2 linked regions of the Homo sapiens genome follow. The gene in region 2 interacts genetically with the main gene of each other region. Each region holds a gene or a part of one and is shown on either strand. Other genes may lie near its edges.

Region 1 (5,476 bases), on a different chromosome or scaffold from region 2:
GACAGAGCAGAGTCCATCGCAGCTGGGAAACCTGGGGCCTAGACAGTGACTCCCTGGGATGGGGGTCAATGGGCGTGAGACTTCAAAGTCCAGGGCCTCAGCCATCTGGGTGCTTATCCTACCCATGCCCTAGACTCACTTTGCCATGAGCAAGTCACTTAGTTGTTCAGTTTTTGAGACATGTGTGAGGCACTGAGGATACTGTAGTGAGCTGCCAGCTGCCTTCCTCCCTGGGCCTTTCTGTGTAGGGGAGGAGTCTAGGAAGTAAGTAAAATAACAGGAGATAGAGAAAAGCTATGAAGAAAATGAAACAGGATCACAGGGCAGAGCATGCCTTGGAAGAGGGGCAATCTTCGAGGGCCTCTCTTGGGGGGCTACATTAAAGTTGAGACGGGAAGGACGAGGACCTGGGCAGAGTCTTCCAAGAAGGCACAGTACACACAGCATGTTCTGCAGGGGGAAGAGCCTGGGCGGTTCTGTGAGGTGCCTGCATGGGTCAGCTCCTATCACTTAAAGACTGGTAGCTGCTGCAGCTGTTATATAACATTATCCAGCATTCCTGATTATTTTAAAGACTAATCAAGAATTGTAAAAGCACTTTATGAAGTGAGTGAAAATGCAGAATACAAAATTGTGCCTATACTGTGTTTTCACCACTGTTTAGATTCTATGCACATTGCCTTTAAGAGCTGGAAGGATGCGGGAAGGTCTGTCTAGTCAATTCTTGTGGAGTTGTTCTGTCACCCAGTTGGTATAGACAGTCACCCTTGTCCTGCAGAACCTCAGAGCTTGGTCGGAAGCGGAAGGCAGAGGAAGATGCGGCACTGCAAGCTAAGAAAACCCGTGTGTCAGACCCCATCAGCACCTCGGAGAGCTCGGAAGAGGAGGAAGAAGCAGAAGCCGAAACCGCCAAAGCCAGTAAGAGCCTTGCAGCTTTGGGAACAGGCTATGGAATATTGATTGTTCTAGGGTAGAGTCTACCTCCAGCTTCTTCTCTTATCACTAGAAGACCTAAAAGACCCTGGGGAGGAGATTGGGAGGGCACCACATATCTTTGGCAGTATTTGAGCCCTTCCTCCGTGCCAGGCATTATATCTCCATGCTCTGGGGGTGCAAGGCCGAACCAAAACAACCAGATGGGCCCTTCCAGTCTCATTTGGTGTATGGGGCCCAGGAGCTGCCCTATTACAGGCTCCCAGGTGATTCTTATTAGCTGGAAAGAAGACACACGTTCAGAAGTACTGCTGGAGGGATTTCAGAAAGCAGCTAGCGGACACATTTTCTGTGTGACCTGTGGGATGCTTTAGGAATTGCTGATCTTCATGTTCATTTAGAATTGTACCCATTAGCACTGGAACGCTGTACTGGGCACTGGTTTTACACCGTTTGCAGGAGTAACTCAGTCAAAGCTTTTATAGCCCCTTCTTCTCCTAAGGTCCCAGGGCTCCTTGTACTTTCCCCAACAGCAGCCATAACTCTACAGAGGAATTGCTGTGTCTCCTTTGCATCGTATTATCTTCTTTTGCTTACATAGAAGACACATTTCTTAATACTTATTTTTTATTTTTCAAGACAAAGTCTTGCCATGTTGTCCAGGCTGGTCTTGAACTCCTGAGCTCAAGTGATCCTCCTGCCTTAGCCTCTTGAGTAGGTGGAATTCCATGCACATACCACCATGCCCAGCTTCCTGAGTCTGCTTTTAAAGTGTTTGAGATCATACTAGGTATATATTTTATTATTTTTTTGAGACGGGGTTTCACTCTTGTCACCCAGGCTGGAGCACAATGGCGTGATGTCAGCTCAGGGCAACCCCCGCCTCCTGGGTTCAAGTGATTCTCCTGCCTCAGCCTCCCGAGTAGCTGGGACTACAGGCATGCACCACTACTGTCAGCTAATTTTGTGGGTTTTCTTTTTCTTTCTTTTTTTTTTTTTTTTTTTTAATAGAGACGGGGTTTCACAATGTTAGCCAGACTAGTCTCAGGTGATCCGCCCACCTTGGCCTCCAAAAGGGCTGGGATTACAGGCATGAGCCACTGCGCCCTGGATATATATTATATATCGCTTAATTTTACATTATAAATGCAAAACGAGTTCACTTTGAACTGTAGAAGAGCATATAGAAGAAAACTTAAAGGTTTTTTGTTGTCCTACCCTGTTCCCTATCATTCCTAAGTGCATCTCCTCATAGGTAACCTTTAAAACTTCCTCCTTTGCCTCTATATTCATTCAAACATGTATTCTTACATGCATATATACAGACCTGCATGCTATTTGAAACACAAATGGTAAAATTTCTTACTGATTGGCTATTTGGTATTAATCAATTTTATAAGCTGTGATAATGGAGGTGTAATTACATTTTTTTGTTTGTTTGTTTGGGGCTTTTTTTGATATGAGGTCTTGCCATGTTGCCTAGACTGGCCTTGAACTCCTGGCCTCAAGTGATCCTCCTGCCTCAGCCTCCGGGTATGTAATTTTATTTTTTTAAAAGTCTTCACTGGGTTGGGCATGGTGGCTCACACCCACCGGTAATCCCAGCACTTTGGGAGGTCAAGGTAGAAGGATCACTTGAGCCCAGGAGTTGGAGACCCGCCTGGGCAACATGGCAAAACCCTGTATCTACAAAAAATTTAAAATTTAGCCAGGCATGGTGGCGTGTGCTTGTAGTTTCAGCTGCCTAGGAGGCCTGAGGTGGGAGGATTACTTGAGCCCAGGAGGTCAAGGCTACAGTGAGCCATGACTGTGCCTGCACTCCAGCCTGGGCAACAGAGCAAGACTGTCTCAAAAAAAAAAAAAAAAGGAAGAAGAGTCCTCGTTGGCATCCTGGGCAACATAGTGAGACTCCGTCTCTGCAAAAAATAAGAAAATTAGCTGGGCATGGTGGCATGCACTGGTGGTCCCAGCTACTCAGGAGGCTGAGATAGGAGAATCATGTGAGTCCAGGCATTGGAGGTTGCAGTGAGCTATGAATGTGCCACTGTACTCCAGCCTGGGCAGCAGAGCAAGACCCTGTCTCAAAAAAAATTTAAAAACGCATCCTCATTGAGAGAGAAACATGCTGAAGTATTTGTGGGCAACGTGGTAGGATCTATGGCATTTTCTTCAAAGTAATGCTTGATGGGGAAGGGTGAGTGAGATAATACATGAGATGAAAAGATTGGTCACAAGTTGTTAATGGTTGGAGCTGCCTGGTTCTTCCTTTCTATTTACTACTTAAAAATTTTCCATAATTACAGAAAGAGAGAGATGGAGTGAAGTGCCAGGAAAAGAATTAGATCATGCCATTCATCTCAGCAACATTCTTCTTTTTTTTTTTTTTTTTTTTTTTTTTGAGACGGAGTCTCGCTCTGTCGCCCAGGTCGGACTGCGGACTGCAGTGGCGCAATCTCGGCTCACTGCAAGCTCCGCTTCCCGGGTTCACGCCATTCTCCTGCCTCAGCCTCCCGAGTAGCTGGGACTACAGGCGCCCGCCACCGCGCCCGGCTAATTTTTTGTATTTTTAGTAGAGACGGGGTTTCACCTTGTTAGCCAGGATGGTCTCGATCTCCTGACCTCATGATCCACCCGCCTCGGCCTCCCAAAGTGCTGGGATTACAGGCGTGAGGCCACCGCGCCCGGCCCAACATTCTTCTTAACAAAAAGAAATCTGAGATTTAAGGAGACAATACCCTGGTATAAAAGCACTGAGAAGCTGGGTGCGGTGGCTCATGCCTGTAATCCCAGCACTTTGGGAGGCCGAGGTGGGCAGATCACGAGGTCAGGAGATCAAGACCATCCTAGCTAACACGGTGAAACCCCGTCTCTATTAAAAATACAAAAAATTAGCCAGGCATGGTGGTGGACGTCTGTAGTCCCAGCTACTCAGGAGGCTGAGGCAGGAGAATAGTGTGAACCCAGGAGGCGGAGCTTGCAGTGAGCCGAGATTGTGCCACTGCACTCCAGCCTGGGCGACAGAGCAGGACTCTGTCCCAGTAAATAAATAAGCACTGAGAATCAGTGAATATCGATATCTAACGGGGCCCAGGTGGCATGGTTCAGCCACCTCTCCACTAAGAAGCCATTTGAATTCCAGGCAACTTTCTCTGTGGACCTGAGGCTGGCTGCCTGCCTGACCACTGCCCCTTCTTGCCGAACAGCTTTCAGGGCTACAGTGTGGTGGCCTGTGTGAATGGTGCCCATTGCAGTGTGCAGTGCCCAGTAGGCAGCAAGAATGTGGGCCAGTCCTTTTCCCTCCAGGGGCCTCCACGTCTCATGCTGCGGGGGAGTTGGGAATCCATCAAGGATGCAGACACATAGCTTCATGTTACCATCCTCTTCTCTCTTGCTCCTGGTGGACCTGGCTGATGCATCACAGAGCTCATTCCTGCAAGTCTGGGCTCAGCCTCAGATCCTCATGCCAGCACCAGGCAGCCAATACCAATAGAATTGTTAGGTGAGATGAAACCTGTTTGCCATTCATAGATGAGAAAAGCTCATCTGGCTCCTTTAGCAGATGTTTGTTTCTTGCAGCCCCAAGACTAGCATCTACCAACTCCTCAGTCCTGGGGGCGGACTTGCCATCAAGCATGAAAGAAAAAGCCAAGGTGAGTGGGACTGCCTTCCAAGCTATTGCCTATGGGATTTAAGGTGCCTGGTAGGGGACAGTCTTACATGTCAGAGAAGGATAGGGTTGTGAGTAATTGCCCCACCTGGATTCAGAGCTCAACCTGTGTCACCAGTTGTGGGATCTTAGTCCCTTCACCTCTCTGGGCCTCAGTTTACTTTTCTATAAAGATAAGGATGATGCCTGCTGCAGTGGGCCACTGGGCACATTCTACACCTGGGGTAGGCGATTTCTTTCCTCTTTCATGCCTGCGTTCACCCGTTCACTCAACAGATCTTGACTAATACCTGTTATGTTCCAGGCACTGTGCTAGGTGTGGAGGCACCGTAGTGATCAAGACATCTGTGGTTCTGAAACTCTAAAAGCATTTTCCAAACTGGAAACTGCTCAAAAAACAAGGTGTCATTTTCTAATAATCCAGAAAGCAGAGTTAGATACATACATGTATAAAGAATTGTGCCTCTGCGATTGCCTGGAGCATTAGCAACAATGTCTCAAAGTAATTATGAAGTAATGATAAGATCAACAACAAACTGCTACTTACCACTTAGTAAATAACTACCATGTCCCAAGAACTGGGATTCTGTTTTCTCAACACCTCTGGTGAGAGGAGGTGCTGTTTTTAACCTCACTTTAAAGATTGGGAAACAGATTGAAGGGGTAGTTTACCCAAACTCACACAGCTAAGAAGTGGTAAGATTGGGTTCAGATGCAAGTGGCCTGTGCTCTTAGTTCACCATGCCATACCAGATGTGTCTGTCACTCTTGTTCTCTGTAGGCAGAGACAGAGAAAGCTGGCAAGACTGGGAATTCCATGCCACACCCTGCCACTGGGAAGACGGTGGCCAACCTTCTTTCTGGGAAGTCTCCCAG
Region 2 (5,476 bases):
TGGAGGCTGGGGGTTATCACAAGACAAGCAAATACAAATGCATAAAATACACTGTTGTACACCAGAGCTCACAGTTTAGTAGAGATGATCCTACTTTACATGGCAATGACAAAAGAGATAATTGACTGGTGTGCAAAGTGTGTAGAACACAGAAGAGGAAGCTAGCAAGCCTCCCCTACCCCACTAGGACATAGACAGGCCTTTCAAGGTGAGTGAGAGTCTACTAGCTAGAGAAGAAAGGGAAGAGGAACAGTATTCAGGATAGATGGGGGAGGCGGAAAACTGAAGATGAGGAAACCAGTTAGAAGCCTATGAATTCTTGAACTGACATGCTGACACTATAGAATGAAGGGATGGTTTTTAGATAGGTTTTAGAAAGAAGTGGCATGGTTGGTGGAGAAAAGGAGGAATCAGAGACAACTGCATGGTTTCTAGCTAAGGCAAATGCTATCCAGTGAGGTGTGGGACCCAGGTGGCAGAGGGTGCTGGACTGGGGGTGGTGGAGCACATGCCAATTGCATGACATGTTGACCATTCATTACTTTTCCAGGACATCTAGGCTAGACAGAAATTTCAGCCTGGAGCTCAGGGAGAAGAGGGAGATTTGAGAGATACACTGCCTCCCAGATCTTTAGGTGTTTGTCCCAGTGTGGGAGTGGAGATGGTTGTGCAGGGAGAGCAGGAAGGGAGGGAGTCAGGGTGGACACTAGAGGGAGGGTAGAGAGAGGAGCTCCTAAGGCAGACTGCCAAGGAAGTTAGAGAAGCAGGAAAGACAGATCCATCACGGAGGACAAGGGAGGAGAGAATATATGGAAGATAAGGAGTGATTCTTGCCAGGGACCTCCCAGGCCCCAGGAAGGGAGCACTGCAGGGTTTGCCTTTGATTGGGCACCTGGGACGCCCTGAGTGACCTTCACAGCAGCCCTTTATGTAAAGTAGTGGGGTACAAGCCAGGCTGCAATCAGTTCAAAAGAGATTTACCTTTAATCTTGGTCAAAATCCTCTATTTTGAAAACCCAGCCAGTGGAAGTCCTTATTCAATTAGTTATGTTCTGAACTTTTTAAGTCATTGAATTCTGAGATACACCTTATTATATTTAGTATTAACTATCCAAAGCTTGTTCTTAATGCTTTAAAAAAAAAAAAAAAACCCTCCTTACCTTCCTCTTTGCTGGGTTTTTTGTAACCTTAGTCTCATTTGATTGTGACTGCAGGTCAAAAGGTGTCCTCCATCCAAGAAGAGAACTCAGTCCATACAAGGAAAAGGAAAAGGGAAAAGGTAGTGGATTTTCTAAAGTTGTGGTGTTTTGGGTTTTATTGGAGAGCCATATATATCATGGCAGAAAGTGAGGGGCAGTGAAAAGGCTCTGGTGGCTAGTGTTTGAAAGCAGCTTAAAATCACTGAATCCTTGAGTATCCAAGCTGGAGGGGTCTCTAGAAATGACCTAAACCAAAACCATCTCCAGTACTTTAATGTACATTCTCTATCCTTCCCCACTTTTTTTTTTTTTTTTTTTTGAGACGGAGTTTCAATCTCGTTGGCCAGGCTGGAGTGCAATGGTGCAATCTTGGCTCACTGCAACTTCTGCCTCGCGGGTTCAAATGATTCTCCTGCCTCAGCCTCCCGAGTAGCTGGGATTATAGGCATGTGCCACCATGCCGGCTAATTTTGTATTTTTAGTAGATGCGGGGTTTCTCCATGTTGGTCAGGCTGGTCTTGAACCCCCGACCTCAGGTGATCCACCCACCTCAGCCCCCACTTTTTTTTTTTAAGTATAGCAAGAACTGCCTGTTATGTTTCAGTTCCTGATAGTCCATATGTAGAGCTACCCCATAGCTCGTCATAGAGTGGCTGTCACTTACCTATAATTGGTTTCTTGAAATGTTTTGTCCAGTCCTGCAAAGTGAAGAACCTCTATGGGCTTGAGTTGATTATACTGGACTCTACCATAAGCCATGTGGGGGAAGGTACAGCAGCTTAGGAGAGTAGTCACCGGGATGCATGTCTGTGGAGGAGCGAACTCATTTCTCTTGAGCAGTGCAGCAGCTGCCTGGCACAAGGACAGAATTCCAGCTGGGGGAGCCTTCGCATGAAGAGGCTGTCTCCTTGATTAAAAAGTCAGATTCTGAGGCTGAGTGTGGTGTCTCACACCTGTAATCCCAGCACTTTGGGAGGCCAAGGCAGGTGGATCACTTGAGGTCAGGAGTTTGAGACCCGCCTGGCCAACATGGTGAAACCCTGTCTCTACTAAAAATACAAAAATTAGCCAGGTGTGGTGGTGCATGCCTGTAGTTCCAGCTACTCGGGAGGCTGAGGCAGGAGAATCGCTTGAACCCAGGAGGTGGAGGTTGCAGTGAGCCAAGATTACGCCATTGCACTCCAGCCTGGGCAACAGAGCAAGACTCCGTCTCAAAAAAAAAAAAAAAAGTCAGATTCTGGAGGCAGACTACTTTGGTTCAAAGTTTTGGCTCCATCCTAATTGGATATGTGATCTTGGGCAAGTTTTTAAAACTTGATGCACCTGAGTTTCTGCATCTGTGTATGAGGATGGCAGCAGTGCTGGCCTCCCGTGTTAGAAGGGTCACGTGAGTCGATGTGTGCGAGGCGCCCGGAGCAGTATCTCACAGTCAGCTCTCCACGTGTCACTCCTCTGCTGCTGCCTTCGTGGAACCTGAGAGTTGGCATACCTGATGGCCATTTCTTACCTGTAGGTCAAGCCGTGCTAACACTGTTACCCCAGCCGTGGGCCGATTGGAGGTGTCCATGGTCAAACCAACTCCAGGCCTGACACCCAGGTTTGACTCAAGGTGAGTATCGAGGGAAACACTTGGATTTGATGGGACTCCAACATTGAGCACTACCCAGAGAAGGAGTGTCTAAGAAAATACTCCTAGGCCAGGCACGGTAGCTCACGCCTGTAATACCAGCACTTTGAGAGGCCGAGGCAGGCGGATCACTTGAGGTCAGGAGTTCAAGACCAGCCTGGCCAAGATGATGAAACGCTGCGTCTACTAAAAATACAAAAATTAGTTGGGTGTGGTGGTGCACGCCTGTAATCCCAGCTACTCAGGAGGCTGAGACAGGAGAATTGCTTGAACCCAGGAGGTGGAGGTTGCAGTGAGCTGCAATTGCACCACTGCACTCCAGCCTGGGCAACAGAGTGAGACTCTGTCTTAAGAAAAGAAAAGAAAATAGTCCCGAGTCCTTGGCCTGGGATGCCTTGTCAGAGGACAGTGGCCAGCTGGGTTTCCTGGTGTATGCCTCTCCCTTAAGTGTAGTTTCACCTATCTTCAGTGGCAAAATGATTCTTTAATGGGAGGGAGGTGAATATTCTGCCTGTGATGACTAGGAGGCCTCTAGGTGACGTTTTTGGCCTTTTCTGATTCAAATCAGAAGGTTTTTATTTTATTTTTAAAATATTTATTTATTATGAGGCAGGGTCTCACTCCAATGCCCAGGCTGGAGAGCAGTGGCACAATCACGGCTCACTGCAACCTTGACTTCCCGGGCTCAAGTGCTTCTCCCACCTTAGCTCCCAAGCATGCCACCATGCCTGGCTAATTTTTTGTTTTTTTGTAGCGATGGGATTTCGCCAGGTTGCCCAGGCTGGTCTCGAACTCCTGAGCTCAAGCAATCTGCCCACCTCGGCCTTCCAATGTACTGGGATTACAAGCATGAGCCATCACACCCGGCCTCAAATCAGTTTTTTAAAGATGAGTAGGCACTCTCCTGTACTCTTGGTAGAAGTAAAAATTGATACTGCTTTTTTGGAGGCTGGCATAAGCGAGGATATTCTTGCAGCATAAGTTAATACCTTCCAAAGAACCTAGTTGACCAAATAGGAGATGCTGTATAGCCATTAAAAAAGACTGGATCTGTGTGTGCTGACAGGGAAAGAGCACCGTGATCACAGAGCATCTCCGAGCAGGTTGCTGAACACTGTGCTGTATGATCCCATTTGGTTTTATATACATACAAAGTTTCTGGAAGGATAGATAAGGAATTCAGAGTGGTTACCCCTGGGGAGGAGAGCAAGAAGTGGTTATCTCTGGTGTGGGGAAGTGTTGAAGATTTATTTTCTACTTTTAATTGCCACTTTTTTTTTTTTTTTTTTTTTTTTTTTTTGAGACGGAGTCTCGCTCTGTCACCCAGGCTGGAGTGCAATGGCACAATCTCGGCTCACTGCAACCTCCACCTCTCAGGTTCAAGCAATTCTCCTGCCTCAGCCTCCTGAGTAGCTGAGATTATAGGTACATGCCACCATGCCCAGCTAAGTTTTGTATTTTTAATAGAGACAGGATTTTGCCATGTTGGCCAGGCTGGTCTCGAACTCCTGACCTCAGGTGATCCACCCCCCTCGGCCTCCCAAAGTGCTGGGATTACAGGTATGAGCCACGGCACTCAGCCAGTTCCCACTTTTCTTTACTGTTTGTTTTCTCACATGAATATGTAACAAAAGGCATTTAGGGAAAACTAGGTAGCAGTATTTTAACTGTCTTGAGAAATTAGTATAATGATGTAATATCTAAATCATCCTCCTTTGCCTCTGAAAAATTCCTCTTGATGGAAGCAGCCACGCCTGGAAACAATTAACCAGCGTATTTCTGGCTTTGTGGATGGATGGATGATGGCACCCATATGGAGCTTTGGACCTAAACTTTATGTGGATAAGAGTTGGCTTTTTGTAAGATGTATGTTCAATAATTACAACCTTCTTTCTCCAGCTGTGTTTAGTCATTACTGCTTTAAAACATTTTTTTTTTCTAAATTTAGAACGTGCTTTCTTAGGAATGTATGACTTAAAAACTGCAACTTGAGGCCAGAGTAAGGTTAAAATGGCCTATAGAGTTTGGTGTCATCCAATTGCCAAGCTATCTTCACAGAGATTTTCCCATTCTAGGGTCTTCAAGACCCCTGGCCTGCGTACTCCAGCAGCAGGAGAGCGGATTTACAACATCTCAGGGAATGGCAGCCCTCTTGCTGACAGCAAAGAGATCTTCCTCACTGTGCCAGTGGGCGGCGGAGAGGTGAAGTATTTCCAAGGGAAGCCAGGCCACAGTGTGCTGCTTAGTCAAGCATTTCTTTTCCCTGGGCCCTCACCCACGCTTCACCCTCAGAGTCCTTTCAGTGCGTGGGTCCTGATCTCCACACTTCTGCGGGACTCAGAACCCAGTTTTCTCTCCCAGGTTAGAGGCCCAGACTGCAAAGATCGTTGCTCAGCTCTGGGTTCTGTTTTTCTGTTTTTTGGTTTTGTTTTTGTTTTTTGTGGGTTTTTTTTTTTTTTTTTTGAGATGGAGTCTTGCTCTGTCACCAGGCGGGAGTGCAGTGGTGCGATCTCGGCTCACTGCAACCTCTGCCTCCTGGGTTCAAGCGATTCTCTTGCCTCAGCCTCCTGAGTAGCTGGGACTACAGGCACACGCCATCATGCCCAGCTAACTTTTGTATTTTTGGTAGAGATGGGGGTTTCACCACGTT

The links.
Region 1: changes in CDCA8 (region 2) and TCOF1 together harm fitness more than expected from each alone (negative genetic interaction), as found in Homo sapiens cells (one large-scale study listed by BioGRID).

What each region holds. Positions count from the first base shown.
Region 1 is NC_000005.10:150,363,335-150,368,810, forward strand, and holds part of TCOF1 (treacle protein), read left to right. Parts: intron 1-778; coding exon 779-918; intron 919-4,509; coding exon 4,510-4,583; intron 4,584-5,381; coding exon 5,382-5,476.
Region 2 is NC_000001.11:37,700,540-37,706,015, forward strand, and holds part of CDCA8 (borealin), read left to right. Parts: intron 1-1,214; coding exon 1,215-1,279; intron 1,280-2,712; coding exon 2,713-2,808; intron 2,809-4,901; coding exon 4,902-5,028; intron 5,029-5,476.